Regions from separate parts of the Homo sapiens genome. Here region 1 is linked to region 2. Evidence: fine-mapped expression QTL. A gene starts in region 2. The other region holds a variant in brackets. All regions are shown on one strand. Distances are from middle to middle.

Region 1 (5,366 bases), 52 kb before region 2:
CGCCTCAGCCTCCTGAGTCGCTGGGATTACAGGCATGTGCCACCACGCCTGGCTAATTTTGTATTTTTAGTAGAGATGGGGTTTCTCTATATTGGTCAGGCTGGTCTTGAACTCCTGACCTCAGGTGATCCACCCACCTTGGCGTCCCAAAGTGCTGGGATTACAGGTGTGAGCCACCACTCCCGGCCATAAACTCTTTTTAAAAAAGATATTTATGGGTCACAGTTTCTATGGGTCAGGAACCCGGCACTTTTTAACTGAGTGCCACTGGATCAGCATCTCTCACAAGGCTGCATCGGAGGGTCAGCTGAGGCTGCCGGGGGAAGGATCCACTTCCAAGTTCACTTACAAAGCTGTTGGCTAGAGACATCAGTTGCCTGCCACATAGGGTCTCTCCATCTCACAACCTAACAGGTGGTTTCTCTCAGACTGAGCCAGTGAGGGAGCAAGAGGAGTTACGTAAGATGGTAGCCACAATCTTTTAGTAATCTCATGTTGGAAATGACATTCCATCACTTTGGCTGCATTCCTTCCATTGGAAGTGAGTCAAGCTGGGTGCCATGGCTCATGCCTGTAATCCCAAGACTTTAGGAGGCCAGGGAGGGAGGATTGCTTGAGCCAGGAGTTTGAGACCAGCCTGGGCAACAGAGGGAGACCCTATCTCTACAAAAAAATTAATTAGTTGGGTATGGTGGCATGCGCATGTAGTCCCAGCTACTCGGGAGGCTGATGTAGGCTGATCGATTGGGCCCAGGAGGTGGAGGCTGCAGTAAGCTGTGATCGAGCCTGAGTGACAGAGCAAGACCCTGTCTCTTAGGGAAAAAAAACGTGGCCCGGCCCAGTGGCTCACGCCTGAAATCCCAGCACTTTGGGAAGCCGAAGCAGGCAGATCACCCAAGGTCAGGAGTTTGAAACCAGCCTGGCTAACATGGTGAAACCTCATCTATACTAAAAATACAAAAATTAACCAGGCGTAGTGGGCAGCGCCTGTAATCCCAGCTACTCCGGAGGCTGAGGCAGGAGAATTGCTTAAACCCGGGAGGCGGAGTTTGCAGTGAGCCGAGATTGCACCACTGCACTCCAGCCTGGGCGACAGAGCGAGACTCTGAAAAAAAGAAAAGGCCGGGGGCAGGCCAGGCCTGGTGGCTCACGCCTGTAATCCCAGCACTTTGGGAGGCAGAGATGGGCAGATCACTTGAGGTCAGGAGTTCAAAACCAGCCTGGCCAACATGGTGAAACCCCATCTCTACAAAAATTAACTGGGCGTAGTGGCACGCGCCTGTAGTCCCAGCTACTCGGGAGGCTGAGGCAGGAGAATTGCTTGAACCTGGGAGGCAGAGGTTGCAGTGAGTGGAGATCAAGCCACCGTACTCCAGCCTGGCAACAGAGCGAGACTTCCACAGAGCGAGACTCCATCTCAAAAACAAAAAAAAAGAAAAAAAGAAAAAGAAAAAATGCCGGGTGTAGTGGCTCACACCTGTAATCCCAGCACTTTGGGAGACCGAGACGGGCGGATCAGGAGTTTGAGACCAGCCTGGCCACATGGTGAAACCCCGTCTCTACTAAAAATACAAAAAATTAGCCAGGCGTGGTGGTGAGTGCCTTTAATTCCAGCTACCCGGGAGGCTGAGGCAGGAGAATTGCATGAACCCAGGAGGTGGAGGTTGCAGTGAGCTGAGATCATGCCATTGCACCCCAGCCTGGGTAAGGAGAGCAAAACTCCATCTCAAAAAAAAAAAAAGTGAGTCAGGAGGTCCACCTGACACTTAAGGGGATCTTAAGGCTGTGAATACCAGGAAGAAGCAGAGATCCACGGACCAGGAAGAAGCAGAGATCCACGGACCAGGAAGAAGCAGAGATCCACGGACCAGGAAGAAGCAGAGATCCACGGACCAGGAAGAAGCAGAGATCCACGGACCAGGAAGAAGCAGAGATCCGTGGTGGCAGGGGTACCTTAGAGGTTGCCTACCACAGGCAGCCACTGGAGAGTTCTGAGTAAGAGTGACAGGATCCGGCTGATTGTTTTTAAGACAGGCCATCCAGTCACACAATGCAAGATTAAAGGTGCAAAAAGGGAGGTGAAAAACCTCCCTCCCACCCCCATCCCCAGCCATTTAACTACCCCTTCCCAGATGCAAGCAGCATTTCTGCTGCCTCACGTGGCCTTCCCAAGGTGGCAACATATATATAAGCAAAACTGTCTGTGGTGGTTGTTAGTGTTGTTCACCAAACATTTCCAATTCTTTT[A/C]TCCTTCCAGGCCTATAGGAGTGATGCCAGGTACCTGCTTCTGCATTATAAACTACTCCAAACTTAGTGGCCTGTTTTATCATGCTCATGGATTCTGTGGGTCAGGAATTCAGGCAGGACTCAGCAGGGAAGATGCCAGGGACCTCAGCTGGATACTTGCATGGCTGGGGGTGACTCAAATTGCCAGGGGTTAGAATTATCATATGGAGGCTTCTTCACTCACATGTCTGGTGCTGGGGGTGGGATGACTGGATCATCCCAGCGTCCTGGGCTCAGCTGGGATTGTCAACCACAGTAGAGCACACACATGTGGCCTCTCCATTTGGCTAGGGCTTCTCACAGCAGCAGCTGACTGTGAGGAAAGAGCCCAAGAGGACAGTTCTGGGGAGCCGGCATTTTATGACAGCCAGGCCATATGGCCTTTCCTGACCTGGCCTCAGACTTCACTCTGCATCATTTCCACCATATTCTACCGATGACAAGAGAGTCATTAAGGTCAGACCAAATTCAAGGGGAGGGAAATTAAACTCTATCTCTTGCTGTGGGGGTGGCAAGGTTCCATTGCAGAGGTGCCCATGGGATGGGAATGCATTGTTACACTCATCTTTAGAAAATATAATCTGCCATAGTAATGTTGTGTCTCCCCACTCCTTTATTTATTTATTTATTTATTGAGACAGAGTCTCACTCTATCTCCCAGGCTGGAGTGCAGTGGAACGATCTCGGCTCACTGCAGCCTCTGCCTCCTGAGTTCCAGCGATTCTCCCACCCCAGCCTCCCAAGTAGCTGGGACTACAGGTGCACAACACCACGCCTGGCTAATTTTTGTATTTTTAGTAGAGACAGGTTTTCACCATGTTGGCCGGTCTGGTCTCAAACTCCTGACCTCAGGTGATCCACCAGCCTTGGCCTCCCAAAGTGCAGGGATTACAGGCATGAGCCACCATGCCAGCCCTTCTCCCCACCCCTTGAAAGCTACTTGTGGCCATGTGGTTTGCTTTGACCAATGAAATGTGAGCAGAAGTGACTTGTGTCACTTTTGGGTGCGAGCTTTAAGGACTATTGTATGATTTACCAAATTTCCCATTTCCTTTCACCACCTGCCATTGTAGAAGCACAAACTGCAATGAAGCCCCTACTACGCTGGGGCCCTGAGTGACTACTATGTGTAGTGCCACCCCACCACCCAACAAGCTGTGTTAGACATGTGGTGTATGCAGGAAATGAACTTTTGTTGCTTTAGGTCACTTAAACTTGGGATTGTTTGTTACTGCAGCAGAACCTAATCTATCCAGACCCTTCCTTTTTTTTGAGACAGAGTCTCACTCTGTCACCCAGGCTGGAGTGCAACATCTCTGCTTACTGCAACCTCTACCTCCTGGGTTCAACCAATTCTCCTGCCTCAGCCTCCTGAGTAGCTAGGATTACCATTCCCAGCTAATCTTTGTGTTTTTTAGTAGAGATGGGCTTTCCCCATGTTGGCCAGGCTGGTCTTGAACTCTTGACCTCAGGTGATCCGCCCGCCTCGGCCTCCCAAAGTGCTGGGATTACAGGCTGAGCCACTGTGCCCAGCCCAGACACTTCTTATGCAAGCCTTACACACTGTTCTGCACCCTGATTTTTTCCACTTAACAATATATCTTGGAGATTGTTTATATCAGTATACAAGCACTTCCACGCTTTTTTTTTAAATAGCTACATCGTATTCCTGGGTAGGAAAGGACATTTTACTTAATCAGTCTCTATTAAGGACAATTAGTATGATCCATCTTTTTGGACAATGCTGCAATGAATAGCCTTAAACATTTCTTTTTTTTTTTTTTTTTTTGAGACAGAGTCTCACTCTGTCATCCACGCTGGAGTGCAGTGGCACAATCTCCGCTCACTGCAACCTCTGCACCTGGCTAAGTTTTGGACTTTTAGTAGACATGGGGTTTTGCCATGTTGGCCAGGCTGGTCTTGAACTCCTGGTCTCAAGTGATCCTCCCGCCTCTGCCTCCCAAAGTATTGGGATTACAGGTGTGAGCCACCAGGCCCCACCAGCCTTAAGCATTTCTTATTTTGCTTGAGTGCAACGATATTTGTTTCTTTTGAGACAGAGTCTTACTCTGTCCCCCAGGCTAGAGTGCAATGGCACGATCTCAGTTCACTGCAACCTCCGTCTCCCAGGTTCAAGCGATTCTCCTGCCTCAGCCTCTCAAGTAGCTGGGATTACAGGCACCCGCCACCACACCTGGTGAATTTTTTTAAATTTTAGTAGAGATAGGTTTTGCCATGTTGGCCAGGCTGTTCTCAGACTCCTTCCCTCGTGATCCACCCACCTCGGCCTCCCAAGGTGCTAGGATTACAGGCGTGAGCCACAGCACCCGACTAAGTGCAATGATATTTGTAAGATAGATTCCTAGATGTGCACATCTCAGATGGTTGGTGGCAGATTTTCCCTCTTATTTATTTATTTATTTTTGAGATGGAGTCTCGCTCTGTTGCCCAAGCTGGAATGCACTGGCATGATCTTGGCTCACTGCAACCTCCACCTCCAGGGCTTAAGCGATTCTCATGCCTCAGCCTCCTGAGTAGCTGGGACTACAGGCCCGCACCACCATGCCCGGCTAATTTTTTATATTTTAGTAGAGATGGGGTTTCACCATGTTGGCCAGGGTGGTCTCGAACTCCTGAGCTCAGGTGATCAGCCTGCCTTGGCCTCCCAAAGTTCTGGGATTACAGGCATGAGCCACCATGCTTAGCCAATTTTCCCTTTTAAAAATATCACTTTGGCTGTAGGTGGAAAATGGCTTAAAGAGCTGGAACGAAATTTCCTGAGTGACATCTCCTCTTCACCTCTTATCTATTGCCATGTCCTGTTCATGCCAGCTACATGCCAGGTCTCCATCTGTCCACCTGTCTGCATGTCCTGGCCACTGCCCCAGCATAGGGCACCATCATTCCTCTCTCTAAAAGTTCCTTCTAAAAGGTCTCTCACCTGTCTTAGGATACTTGGCTTGCAGACAAGGAAGCCAATTCTGAGTAACTAAGCAGATGAGGAATGGATGGGGCAGCCTGGGGGGCTTGCTGAATCCCCCTCCCCCAGGAAGGGCCTAGCTTGACTGCCTTCCTTGCCT
Region 2 (5,366 bases):
GTGTGATATTGACACCAACTCAAAAGCCATCTAGCCAGATAAACTGAACTAGCGTGAGGTGGGAGCTGGAATGTGGCAGTTCCAGAGACCCTGGGGTGAGCTGGGATGGGGGGTGAGCTGGGGTGGAGGGTGAGCTGGAGTCGGGGGCTGAGGGCAGGTGGACCCCGCAGGACCATCACTCTCAGGATGGTGGTGCTAGAAAGGCCTTCAGTATCCGAGGTAGTGCTGGGCCCAATCCCTTTTCTTTCCAAGAGGACCAGGAACTTGTGTATGATCACAGTGAGTCATATCACAACCAGGACAACAGTGGCCCTTCCCACCACACAACCTCATTTCCTGGGTCCCCTGCTCCCTGTGCCAGAGTAGTGGTGCACTTCAGAGGCCCTGCCACCTAGGAGTGAACTCCCCCAACCACCCCTCCCCATTGGAGGCAAGGTAAGGGTCGGGGGGCAGACAGCAATTTACCCAAGACACCCCTCCCTCTGGACCTATGTGCAGGGTCTGCCTCTGAGTCTTCAGACCTCACTGCACCCCTGGTTCCATGCTGGGCCCTGGGGTATTCATATTCTCTTGTGTAGAAAGTGATCCTCACACCCCTTTTTCAAAATGTTATCTGGGCCCTTAGTGAACGAATGTGTGCATGTGCGAGGGTACATGTGTGCATCTGTGTGTGTCCCACACACAACCCAGATGGGGGCTGACGCACACCAGTGATGAATAACTCGCTTTGGCCACACGGATGCTGCTGGGGTGGGTGGGGGCAGGCCTGTGTTGAGCAGGATGTGGGGCAACAGGGGTTGTGTGGCCTTGGCAATAGGCCACCAGAGCTCTGCTTTTAGGAGAAAATGGGGTGTTGGTAGACAACACCCCTCCAGGCTGGAGGGCAAAGGAGGTGTTCTGGGGTGAGCTGTGCTTCTCCCCAGGCGGGGCCTTATCCCAAAGCCAGCTCCTTCACCAGGCCAAGCCGGCCACTTGCCCAGAGCTCCTCCCATGATCTCAGCCCCCCTGGGGCAGGGCTGGGACAATGGGTGGGCCGCCTGCCTGCTGAGCCTGTGCCGGCCTCTCCTGTGACTGACCTGCAGGACACGAGAGCTTGTCTCTCGCGTCCATCCCTCCAGGCCTGGCTGCTGGCCAGTGCTGCAGTACCATGCCATGGATGCCCAGCCATCTCATCCTCTCCTCCAGAAGCCCCCAGGTCAGAGTCCCCACCTGGCTGCCCTCCCAGTGTGCGGGTGAGGCCAGCCCAAGCGGGGTCCCTCAGACCTGCCCTCCTCTTTGCCTCAGTTTCCTCAAGAAGAACCTGTTCCCATCTGCCAGCAGGGAGAGGAGGCCTAGGAACCAGATGGGCACCTTCCCTAGAAGAAGAGTATTACGGGGGGGTTAAAGGATTCCAGGATGGGGCTGTGAGGAACCCCTCGGTTTCCTTTTTCCACCACCCTGGGCCGCCAGCCCCAGAGCAGGTGGTCCATCCCCTCCCCCAGCTCAGCGGGAGACAACAGCTGGGGGGCGGGGTGAGGGGCGGCCCAGCTCCTCCCCCATCAGGGACCGAGTGCCCCTTGCTGGGGGCCGGTGGATCTGTTCACCCCTTCAGCCGTCTTTGGGGGCTCCCTCCACACTTGTTCTCCAGAGGGCTTCCTCCCAGGGATCTCAGCTGGCCCCTTAGGCAGCTCGGTGCCCCCCAGCCCAGCTGCCTAGTCCCCGCAGTCCCCTTCAGGTAGGGGAGGAGAGCTCACCCCTGCCTCCTCCGCGACCCGCGGCGGTAAGGGAGTCACTTCGCGGTCGCCATGTGGCAGCAAACATCCTTCCACCTCACTCCAGCCCAGGTTTCGGGGGGAGGGCGGCCCACTCCGAGAGGCCCCCCGGTGGGCGGGGCGCCCGGCCCCCAGCCCGCTCCGCTCCTCCCCCGCCCTCGCTTTCCTTTGTGCTGTGGCCGGGCCGGGCTGAGCCGGGCAGGCTGCGCTGGCTCCGCTAGCTCGGTCCCCGCCCCGTCCCCGCCCGGACCTCGCCCGCTCGAAGGTGGCGAAGGTGCCCTTGGCCGCCCCGTGCACACCTGTCCCCCGGGCCCGGGGGGTAGGGTGGGGGATGGGCTCCCGCAGGGCCACGCGGCCCCGGGCCCCACATCGGGACCCCGCGCCTCCGGGCCGCGTCCGGCCGCCGCTCCCACCGCGCGCCTTGGGCCGCCTCCGGGCGCTCGGGGCCCGGCAGTGCCCCGCCTGGCCCGCCGGCCCCTCCCCCGGCGCGCACAAAGGCAGCCCCTCCCGGCCCTCCCGGCCCGCTGCACCATTTCGGGGTCCCCCTCCCTTCCCGGCGGCGGGGCGGCGGGGCGGGAGAGAAACAAAGGCGCGGCGGCGGCGCGGGGACAAAGGGGCCGGGGGCGGGGGCGGGGGGCTCACCAGTCGGCCGCGCTCTCCTCTCGGATCACCTCCTCGTAAGCCGCCAGCAGCTCCAGGCGGTGGCCGCTGAAGCTGACGCCGGCCATGCTTCGGGCCGGACCGGGCCGAACGGACAGACGCGCGGACGGACGGGCGGACGGAGGAGGAGGGAGGGAAAGAGGGAGTCGCCGCCGCCGCCTCGGAGCCTCTGCAGCGTCGCGAGCCGAGCGAGCCAGCGGCCGGGGGAGGGGAGCCGGCCGGCGGGGGGCGGGGGGCGCTGGCTCCGCCCGGCTCGCTCCCTCCGCTCGCTCGGTCCTAGCGCCGCCCCGGCCCGGCCCAGGGGGAGGCCCGCCCCCCCTTCCCGGCCTGCCCCGGGCGCCCCTCACCCACCGCCCCTGCGCGCCGCTCCAGGGCCAGCCCCACCCACGTCCCGAACCCTCACCTGCCCCGTCCGTAACCTCGGCGCTAGCCCTCCTTCCAGCCCCGAACCCAGTCCCGTCCCCACCTCCCCCCGCCCACCCCCCGTCCCAATCCGGTTCCGCCCCACCCATTGCTTCATTGATCTCCATTCCTGGTGCGTCCCACCTCATGTTAAACCCATTTTCATCCCAACCCAGCTCACACAACACCCCACCCCTGGCCCGTCTCCTTTCCCTGAGAGGTCCTTGCCTAGTCTATCCCATCATATCCACTGTCATCTGCATCCCACCCTCAAATCCACCCCAGTTGCTTTCCCATCCCAGCTTCAGCCCCATGCTTAGCACGTGTCCCCCCCAACATGTGTCACGGCACATCTTCAGTCCAACCCATCCCAGTCTCATCCTGATCCCAGTTCCCAATTCCCAACCACAGCCCCCCATCTCGGCTCCATGACCACTTATTCCAGGCCATTCTCAGCCCCTACCCAGCTCATTATCCCTCCATTCCAGGCCTCTCCTCCCCTCCACGCCTGTGCCCTCTCAGATGGGGCCAGCTAGGAGATCCTTTGCATTCTCTCTCAAGCCTCACGCCTCCCAGAGGAGTCCCAAGTAGAGTTCCGGAAGCAGCATCTAACCCCAGACTCCCACGGCAGGGCTCCTCCAAGGACGCTCAGGGCCAGCCTCTTGGCACCTTTATCTCCTAAAGCTCTAAGCACAGAACGGGAGGGGGCCTCAGAAAAGTACCCCCTGCAAGGGAGTGGACACCATGCCAGGGCCTTCCAGAACTCCGTTCCTTGCTAGGTTGGGACCCTGAAACCGTCCACAGCGCTTAGAAGCCTTTTCCACCACTACAAAGCCTCCAACCTCGACCTCCCTGAGCAAACTTCACCTGGTCCCAACCGCACCGCGGAGGAGGAGGTGGTTCTAGCCAGGCCTCCGAGTTCTGCGTTGGGTAATTGGCTATGCCAAGAGAAGGAGAGCAGGGCTGCCTATGTGGCAGTGTTCCTGGCGCTTTGGAGTTGGGAGAACCCTCTTAAAACTCAAAATACTCACAGGCCCCTGCCTTGGGAAGTCAGTGCCCACTATGTCTAGGGACCACAGGCCATGGCAATTTCTCCATGGCCACCACTAGAGTGAGGCACCCAGGCAGGGACACAGCCAGGCCCTGTGCCCTAGACCAACTGGCCAGTAGGTGTGGTTGGCCTGCCATGGGGATCCCTAAGGGAGTGGGTGACACATGGTGGGGAAGGGAAGTGGGGAGAGCCATGGAGGGACAGAGCTTCAGCCATCCCCCACCCTTAGGCATGAAGAGCCTGATTCTGGTGAGGAGGGAGACCCTGCAGCCGGGGAGGGGCAGCAGATGGCTGGCCATGAGCATCTGTGGCCTCAGCCTCTTCCAGCTTCCTTTGATTTGTCCTAGCTCACAGCTCCTCGCCCCCCCCGCTCCCCTCACCCCCCAGCCTCCTGCACACTCAATTTTGCATCCAAAAAACAGAAGCCCTAAATGCATCTAAGCTCTTCCTTCCTCAAATTCCTGCCTCCCCACCAGCCACCTACAAACTCTCCAGCCACGCCCACTCTCACCTCTTGCCATCAACATTTTTAAATAAACTTTCTATTTTAGAACAGTGTTAGATTTACAGAAAAGTTACAAAGATAGTATAGAGAGTTCCCATACACCCTGCACTCAGTTTTCCCTATTTTCAGGGAAGCAAGGGTGTTCCCTGCTGGCATGCCCTAGAGCCCACTCCCCTGGTCTCCGCACCCGTCACCCTTCCAGGTTATCTTCATCCCCTCATTTCTATAGGATGCAGACAGACATCTGTCCTCTGTCTCCTCCTCCCCGCATTTTCTCTGGCACTGCTCTGGCCAAGGTCACCAGTAACCCCTAACTTGCCAAACTCAGTGGACCCATAGTTCTCAGTTGCCCTGACTGGTGGGAGTGGGTGGCCACTGGTCACTGTCCTCTGAGAACCTGCCTCCTTTCAGCTGCTGTTGCCCCTGAAGCCCACACACTCAGCCTTGGTGGGTGGGAGGCTGGTGGGTTCCTCCTACCAGGACTTCGTGTCTGCCACCCCCAAACCGATCACCCTTCAAGTCACTGACAGGTCGGTCTCTCCCACCCCCAGAGCATGAGCTCCCCCTACACACAGCGGGAGGCTGGGCCAATGACTTCTGGATCCCCAGAGTGGAAAAGATGAGACAAGGGAGGACTGAGATCCAGAAACTGGGCCTTTGCTGTGTGACCTTGGCTGAAACACTTCCCCTCTCTGAGTTTCCTTTTGATAACCTGTTGTGAGAATAAAATGGGACTGGATGGAGGCTTAGAAGGAGAACCCCCTCCCTCCCTCCCTCCTCACAGCCCCACCCTCCTCCCTCCACCCCCACCTTCCTGTTCTGTGCTCCCCCACACCTCTCCGGGAAGGTTTTAGGGCTGAGGGGAGGCTGCAAGACTTTTTCAGCAAGAGCTGGTGGAGTCTTCTCTGGCCTCTTCCAACCTCTGCAAGATCCCACCAAGCACACACACAGATTGCCCCTTGATCATCACAAAGCTCATGGCTGTTCCCAGGTATCT

Which allele goes with the higher level. Positions count from the first base shown, and alleles are read on the strand shown. Sizes are in standard deviations (SD) of each study's normalised expression.
For the expression in monocytes of the gene that starts at base 2,592 in region 2, A is the high allele of the variant in region 1 and C is the other (large effect, 0.92 SD a copy in Schmiedel 2018).

Evidence for each region. PIP is the estimated chance that this variant, and not a neighbour inherited with it, causes the effect. A credible set is the group of variants that fine-mapping cannot tell apart.
Region 1: its variant is the best candidate, but not a certain one, in a credible set for the expression of DBN1 in monocytes (Schmiedel 2018, PIP 0.85).

Annotation. Positions count from the first base shown.
Region 1 is chr5:177,418,771-177,424,136 of GRCh38, forward strand. No RefSeq gene overlaps it. Among named protein-coding and RNA genes, the nearest start is that of GRK6, 5.2 kb to the right of the region's middle. The variant A/C (reference allele first, on the strand shown) is at 2,248.
Region 2 is chr5:177,471,043-177,476,408 of GRCh38, forward strand. DBN1 (drebrin 1) reads right to left here and starts at 2,592. Exons shown (of 15, transcript NM_001363541.2): 1 at 2,394-2,592. The coding sequence starts at 2,479. RefSeq lists enhancers at 1,450-1,953, 1,954-2,455 and silencers at 1,604-1,790, 1,710-2,079, 2,110-2,309, 2,390-2,769, 2,780-2,829.